2 linked regions of the Homo sapiens genome follow. The protein of the gene in region 1 purifies or fractionates together with the protein of each later gene. This does not show direct contact. Each region holds a gene or a part of one and is shown on either strand. Other genes may lie near its edges.

What was found.
Region 2: the proteins of E2F5 (region 1) and LIN54 purify together in Homo sapiens (co-immunoprecipitation; one large-scale study listed by IntAct). This does not show direct contact.

The regions. Positions count from the first base shown.
Region 1 is NC_000008.11:85,204,473-85,208,299, reverse strand, and holds part of E2F5 (transcription factor E2F5), read right to left. Parts: intron 2,124-3,827; coding exon 2,080-2,123; intron 876-2,079; coding exon 811-875; intron 1-810.
Region 2 is NC_000004.12:82,979,722-82,983,548, reverse strand, and holds part of LIN54 (protein lin-54 homolog), read left to right. Parts: intron 1-3,827. UniProt on the Homo sapiens protein: Component of the DREAM complex, a multiprotein complex that can both act as a transcription activator or repressor depending on the context. In G0 phase, the complex binds to more than 800 promoters and is required for repression of E2F target genes.

The sequences.
Region 1 (3,827 bases):
CTGGAGTGCAATGGCGCGATTTCGGCTCACTGCAACCACTGCCTCCTAGGTTGAAGCAATTCTGCTGCCTCAGCCTCCCAAGTAGCTGGGATTACAGGCATGCACCACCATGCCCGGCTAATTTTGTATTTTTAGTAGAGATGGGGTTTCACCATGTTGGTCAGGCTGGTCTTAAACTCCTGACCTCAAGTGATCCACCTGCCTTGGCCTCCCAAAGTGCTGAGATTACAGGCATGAGCCACTGCACCCAGCCCAATGTGGTCATTTTAACTTATTTTTATAGATTATTGGCCATATGATTAGTCATTTCTTGACATCCTCTAACTTAAAAAATTCAAATTTAAAATAATTTAATCAAAATGTTAAATCATTTTAAATCATTTGGTTACTTGGGGATAGATATCTTAGGGATAGGACCCAAGTCTAAACACAATATTCATTTGTTTCATACACACCTTATTCACATAGCCTGAAGATAATTTTATACAATAGTTTTAATTTTTGTATGAAACAAAAATCACTTGATAAAGCATTCTGATTACTTTTTAAAAATTGACTTTGAGCTAAATGATATCAATAAATGACTAAGGATATAGCCAATAATCTTTAAAATCATTTATGATTCATTTAGTTCTATAATTTTACCAAGGAATTAAAGACATACAAATTCAGCTATCAATACTTTTAGATAAAAACTTGACTAACTCACAGTGTTTACACAATTAGCTCACATTCAGCTAAAGAAAATATCCTTCTTGAGACAGTAGATTCATTTTTCCCACTTATATAAACATAAGTTATCCTACATACCATTTCTGGAATGGGTACCTCCAGTTGTGTACCAGAAGGTGCCTGAATGGCCAAAAGTGTATCACCTGGTCAAAAATAAATATAAAAAGTTACATAAAATACTGTTGATCATGGAATACAGTGGCAAGAATGTGGGCTCTGGAATCAGAGTGTTTGGTTCAATCCCAAACTAGGTGACCTTGAGCTTTGATTTTCAATTCTATAAAATGGGGGATACACAACCTACTGCATAGATTTATTTTGAGGATTAAATAAGATAATACATGTATTAGTATTATACATGGGTTAGCTGTATGATTCTCATTAACAAATTCAGCTCAAGTTGATTTTGCTTTGACTAAGACTCCTGTAAAGTCTGAGATTCTTAAGACCATTTAGCCTCAAATAACACTGTTCATTGGACTGAGGATAGTGGAGATTAGGTATGAGACACTGAAATGTTGAGCTTAAATGATTTTATTATTTTTGAAGCCAAATTCTACAACAAATCTCTGTTGAGTTGCAGATTAACAGAAGTCTCAGCAAACTTCCTTAAAAAACTCAGGAAATACAGTGGTAAAATAGAACAATAGTCCTATACTTATTTCCAACATAGTCTTACATAGAAAGTCAGATTCCACTTGATGAGGTACTTGGCAGAATCTTTTTAAATAGGTGGATAATACACATAAATTTAAATATGCACAATTTCATTTTACTTGTGCTATAATTTTGGGAACACACGTCCCCCCATTTTAGTTATATTAATAATTATAATTATTAACATGATATTGTTATTTTAAGGAGAAAACACAGGGGCAGCAAATTGCATAGGAATAGGTTTCCTGGTTATAAGATGGATTCACCTAATTCTTTCCTTATGGTTTCTTTGAGTTTCATTTGAGACCAGCATACTTGCATATAGTTTGATAAACAATGCTGATGAGAACCATGTTCTAGTTCAAGTTTGGTCACTAACTCTGTGACTGTGTGACAATGAAAGTTGCTTAATCCCGCTCTGATTTAGCTTGCCCTCTGTCCCTGTCCCCTTCCCCTTCCACACACAGTTGATCCCTACCAGTGGAGCTAATGAACTGAATGCTGTGAAAAGCAGCTATTCTCATGAAAACAGAAACAAAAGCAGTCTATCAATACACGGCATGGTGGAGTGAGACACAATGCCCACAACTTCTGAAAATAATGACAGGATGAGGACACAGGGAATTCTGAATCACCCTCCACTAAATAGGTTGAGAGGAAGAATGCAAGGAAAAGTCTAATGGTACTTACCATTAAAGCAATTACAGATGTCTTCATGAGTTACATAGGAAAATGTACTGTCATAGGAGTTAAGGAACGACATTTATATCAAGCCGTAGGCATTTAAATTAAGGTAATACATCTGAAGGTCAAAATAACTAAATGACCATATGCACAGAGGGACTGCCACACATGGACAGACAAAAAAAGAAGTCTAGTCTAGAAAGGTAAAGACAAAGGAGTTCCCATCCTTTGCTCTTAGAAGAAGCCATTCTGATTTTTGTGACATTTGAGGACCCTTAGGAGAGAGATGGAAAGCAGTGCACATTCTTCATGGAGGCAAAGGTTTCTGGGGGAAGGGAATGGATGGGGAAAAGGAGGCCATCAGCAACCATATCAGCTTCCACATCAGGAATTTTCTGTGATCGTTGTTTTTTGTTCTTGTATTAAATGGTCAGGTATGGCCACAAGAGGACACAGAGGATTAAAGAAAGGCTCAGAAAAACAAAGTATTATACTCATAGGTCCTAGTGACGGGAGGCAAGGCAGGCTACTCAGGGCCACATGGTTAAGACAACAAGGTGGTCAGGAGGCAGAAGACAGGAGCAAGGGGAAAGCATTAGCCCAGAGCTTTTATTGGGGTTTCCTTGGGAAAAGAAATGCAGGGTGGCTGGGCATGGTGGCTCACGCCACCCAGCACTTTGGGAGGCCGAGGCAGGTGGATCACTTGAGGTCAGGAGTTCAAGACCAGCCTGACCATATGCACAGAGGGGCTGCCACACATGGACAGATAAAAAAAGAAGTCTAGTCTAGAGATGGTGAAACCCATCTCTACTAAAATACAAAACTTAGCAGGGCATGGTGGTGAGCACCTGTAATCACAGCTACTCTGGAGGCTGAGGCAGAAGAATTGCTTAAACCCGGGGGGTGGAGGTTGCAGTGAGCCAAGATCGCATCACTGCACTCCAGCCTGGGCAACAGAGCGACTCCATCTCAGGAAAAAAAAAAAAGCAGGGTGGGGAGAACACTACGATTAGCTAGTCTGGATAATTTTGTTTTGTTTTATTTTGAGACGGAGTTTGCTCTATCGCCCAAGCTGAAGTGCAGTAGTGTGATCTTGGCTCACTGCAGCTTCTGCCTCCTGGGTTCAAGCAATTCTCCTATGGCCTCCCTGGTAGCTGGGATTACAGATGCACATTGCCATGCCCAGCTAGTTTTTGTACTTTTAGTACGGACAGGGTTTCACCCTGTTGGCCAGGCTGGTCTCAAACTCCTGACCTCAGGTGATCCGCCAACCTTGGCTTCCCAAAGTGCTGGGATTACAGGCGTGAGCCACTGCATTTGGCCTAGTTTGGATAATTTTGGTGGGCTCTAAGCTATGCAGGTAGTCCCCCAGTTGTCTGGTACCTGACCCTGGGATGATTAAGGCAGAGGAATATTGCCACCTGGGGTGTATGGACTGGAGAGAGGAGGTCTGGACCTTGACTGGTTAGTTTATATATCAAAGGGATGCTCCTGGCTGAGCCCATGCTGTTTCTTTTTTTTTAATTTTATTATTATTATACTTTAAGTTTTAGGGTACATGTGCACAACGTGCAGGTTTGTTACATATGTATACATGTGCCATGTTGGCGTGCTGCACCCAATAACTCGTCATTTAGCATTAGGTATATCTCATAATGCTCTCCCTCCCCCCTCCCCCCACCCCACAACAGTCCCTGGTGTGTGATGTTCCCCTTCCTGTGTCCATGTGTTCTCATTGTTCAATTCCCACCTAT
Region 2 (3,827 bases), on another chromosome or scaffold:
CGTAGGTTACTTATCTTCTCTGAGTTTTTGACTTTATCTTAAGAATACTTTTTGATCAAGATGAAATGTGTAGTATAATTCTCAAAATATTGAGGATGTTTCATAATGGTACCTATTATTAGTATGAATAGGACCCTAAGAAAGAAGGTTACTGGAATATATATTAAGTGATTTCCAGTTTATCATGCCCAAATAGGCTTTCTTAGGCCACCACTACTCTTGGAAATGCAGTGATCGGCGGGGCGTGGTGGCTTAAGCCTGTAATCCCACCCAGCACTTTGGCAGGCTGAGGTGGGCGGATCACCTGAGGTCAGGAGTTTGAGACTAGCCTGCCCAACATGGTGAAACCTCATCTCTACTAAAAATACAAAAAATTAGCCAGGCATGGTGGCGAGTGCCTATAATCCCAGCTACTCAGGAGGCTGAGACAGGAGAATCGGTTGAACCCGGGAGGCAGAGGTTGCAGTGAGCCGAGATCGCGCCATTGCACTCCAGCCTGGGTGACAAGAGCGAAACTCCATCTCAAAAAAAAAAAAAAAAACAAGAAATGCAGTGATATACTTATGACCAGGAAACAAAAATGTATCCTCTGTTTGAAAGAGTTGTCTTTGAATGCATAGAAATAATAGGAAATGCATAAGAAGGAAGTAGGAAGGTTTTGGGAGACTACACTCAGCTGATATTAGAGTAATGTTTTGGTTACTGTTTTGACAGTAGAATTAGAAACCACTTTTCATGGGCTTTGCATTTAAGAACTTTGTAGAATTTCTTAAATCTTATAATTTGCCTCTGTCCCCTTTGCCATTATTAAACATTTAGTGCTCTTTCTTGTTCATTATTACTTCTCACTTATCTATGACTTCCTTTTACTTCTTATTTTTGCCAAGAATCTCTTGGATGAGATATCTTATCACCATCAAGCATCTTGTCCTCAGTTTTGAAGCTTGTTTTTATTGGTTTACCAAAGTTTATTTGGCTTTGGCAATATGGATCATAATTATGTTCAAAAGAAACTGATGCCAGGTGTGGTGGCTCACGAACCTGTAAGCCCAACACTTTGGGAGGCCAAGGTGGGCAGATTCTGTGAGGCCAGGAGTTCGAGACCAGCCTGGGCAACATAGTGAAACCCTGTTTCTACCAAAAATACAAAAAATTAGCCCAGCATGGTGGCGCACACTTGCGGTCCCAGGTACTCAGGAGGCTGAGGTGAGAGGGTCGCTTGAGCCGGGGAGGTCTAGGCTGCTGTGAGCTGTGGTCGCATCACTGCACCTCAGCCTGGGCTACAGGAAAACCCTGTCTCAAAAAAATAAAAATAAACTAAAAAAGGAAAAGATATCATAAATTAGAATGTCATTTTTTTCATTTATGAGAGCAAGGTATATGTGACATTTCAATGACCAGTGTTGCTTGTATCTATTATTTCTCTACTTTAACTCCCTAAGTAATGACAATAAAAAAAAGACTGGGGTCTAATTCTTATAACTTGTTTTATTGTTACTTTTCTGTTTTGTTTTGTTTTGTTTTTGAGACAGGTCTCTCTGTCACCCAGTCTGGAGTGCAGTGGGTGCTCCACTGCAGCCTTGACCCCCCAAGCTCAAATGCTCCTCCCACGTCAGCCTCCCAAGTAGCTGGGACTACAGATGCAAACCACCACACCTGGCCAATTTTTGTATTTTTTTTGTAGAGATGGGGCTTTGCCATGTAGCCCAGGCTGGTCTCAAACTCCTGGACACAAGCAATCCACCTGCCTTGGCCTCTCAAAAGTGCTGGGATTACAAGCATAAGCCACTGCACCTGGGCTATTGTTAGTTTTCTAAAGCCTGTTTCTATCTAATAAAAAAGAATTCTATTAAAAAAAACAATAAAAAGGAATTAGATTTAGAATTTTTTTTACTTGTACAATCCATTATTTTTAGGCGACTTAAGTCTTTCCATCTCAGAAGTAACCTCAAAGCTCTGAAGCACAAAAGACAAATTAAAAACTATGCATCTATATTTTTTCCTTTTTTGACACCAGAATATTTGGTTTAGTATTACAAAGAGTATATGATTTTCTGGTTTTTTTCCCCCTAGGTAGTTGTCAGTGTTAAGTTTAGTCAGAGTATTGAGACTGTTAGGGTATAGATAGCAGGCAACGGTGGAAGATGGAGGCCATCTTGAAAAATGAAGAAAAGAGGTGACCTTTGAAGCCAGAGGCAGTAACAGAGGTATAATTATATGTAATAACAGATATATAAACACTTTCCCATGTTTCCTGTGCATAGTATATAAGAGTAGTACATAACTAGCAGTCTGGAACAATATAACTCCTTACTAGCTCCTGAATCTATCCAACACAGTGCCAAAAATTACTTGTATATATTATTTGATGACATATTTTACTACCTTATTTGTAAGTTTTTTTTCATGTTTATCTTAAGCTGCTGATTCTATAAACTTGTTAAAGTAATCTTTGATGCTTTGTTTTACTTAATAATTTTGTTCCAGGATACTTTAGAATTCATAGTGCAAAAAAATCATAGTTCCTTAATGGAACCAAAAGTTATTATTTTCAGCACCACTAAAGAAACATAACCACAAGGGCAAGATGAGATTGTTTATTTGAATAATTAATGTGCTTCTGGTTGTACTGTTTATATTTTTTTCTTACTGATAAGTATTCATATACTCATGATTGTGAAAAATCAGTTTAAAATGGGGAAATACTTTAAGCCCATAATTGTTATAGCTAAGGTTATTTATTGCTAATATGGCTTTCTAAGAATATTAATACTTCTACCTCTAGAGATTGTTAATATTATAGATACAATAGATACAATTTTGACTGACTTTAGGGTTTTAAGTCTGTAAACATACTTGAGAAATTTGTATTTCTCTAAATTTCATTAGCTTTCTAGAGTATAATTATAGATTTATTTGAGTATGTTATAGTTTTGCAAGTCGGCCGTTTTTAAATACAATAATGGGTATGTTTTTTTTTAAGTGATTTGTATTTTATATACAGTTGGTTTTTGTCAGTAATGTGCTCTGAGTATAAAAAAGTAATATATTGTAGGTGTAAGATGTGTTATTTAGTTTAATTTATAATTTGAGCACAAAGAGCTAATATTTGTCTAGTTCTGTGATCTATCATAACTTCCGGTGTATTTCTGTTATTCATGTTGGTCATATTTTTTCATTTGAGTCACTATTTCCTATAATAAATAGTTCTTTTACAGTCTCAATTTTCATTGCCAAAAGATATAATTAATATTTAATGTTCTTCACACTCTAAAATTCTTTGATTTTTATCCCAGGTAAATTTCTTCTTTTAACTTTTAGAAGAAGCTGTGTCTTTGTATATGGTGATAATCGCAATATAAAAAATTGGTAACTCTACACTCCTTGACTTGTGGAGAATTATAATTCAGGTCAACAGTGTGCCAATATGTAACTTCAAATTGGAGATGAATTAAATATAGTTTCTCTCTTCAAGGAATTTAAAATATAATAAACAGTTGCTGTAGCCCAGGAGTTTGAGGCTGCAGTGAACTATGAGTGCACCACTGCACTCCAGTCTGGGTGACGAGATGAGACCCAGTATTTTTTTTTTTTTTTTTTTTTTTTTTTGAGACAGAGTCTCACTCACTCTGTCACCCAGGCTGGAGTGCAGTGGTGCAATCTCGACTCCCTGCAACCTCTGCTCCCGGGTTCAAGCAATTCTCCTGCCTCAGCCTCCCGAGTAGCTAAGATTATAGGTGTGCGCCACCACACCCTGCTTATTTTTGTATTTTTGTAGAGACAGGGTTTCACCATGTTGGCCAGGCTGGTCTTGAACTCCTGACCTC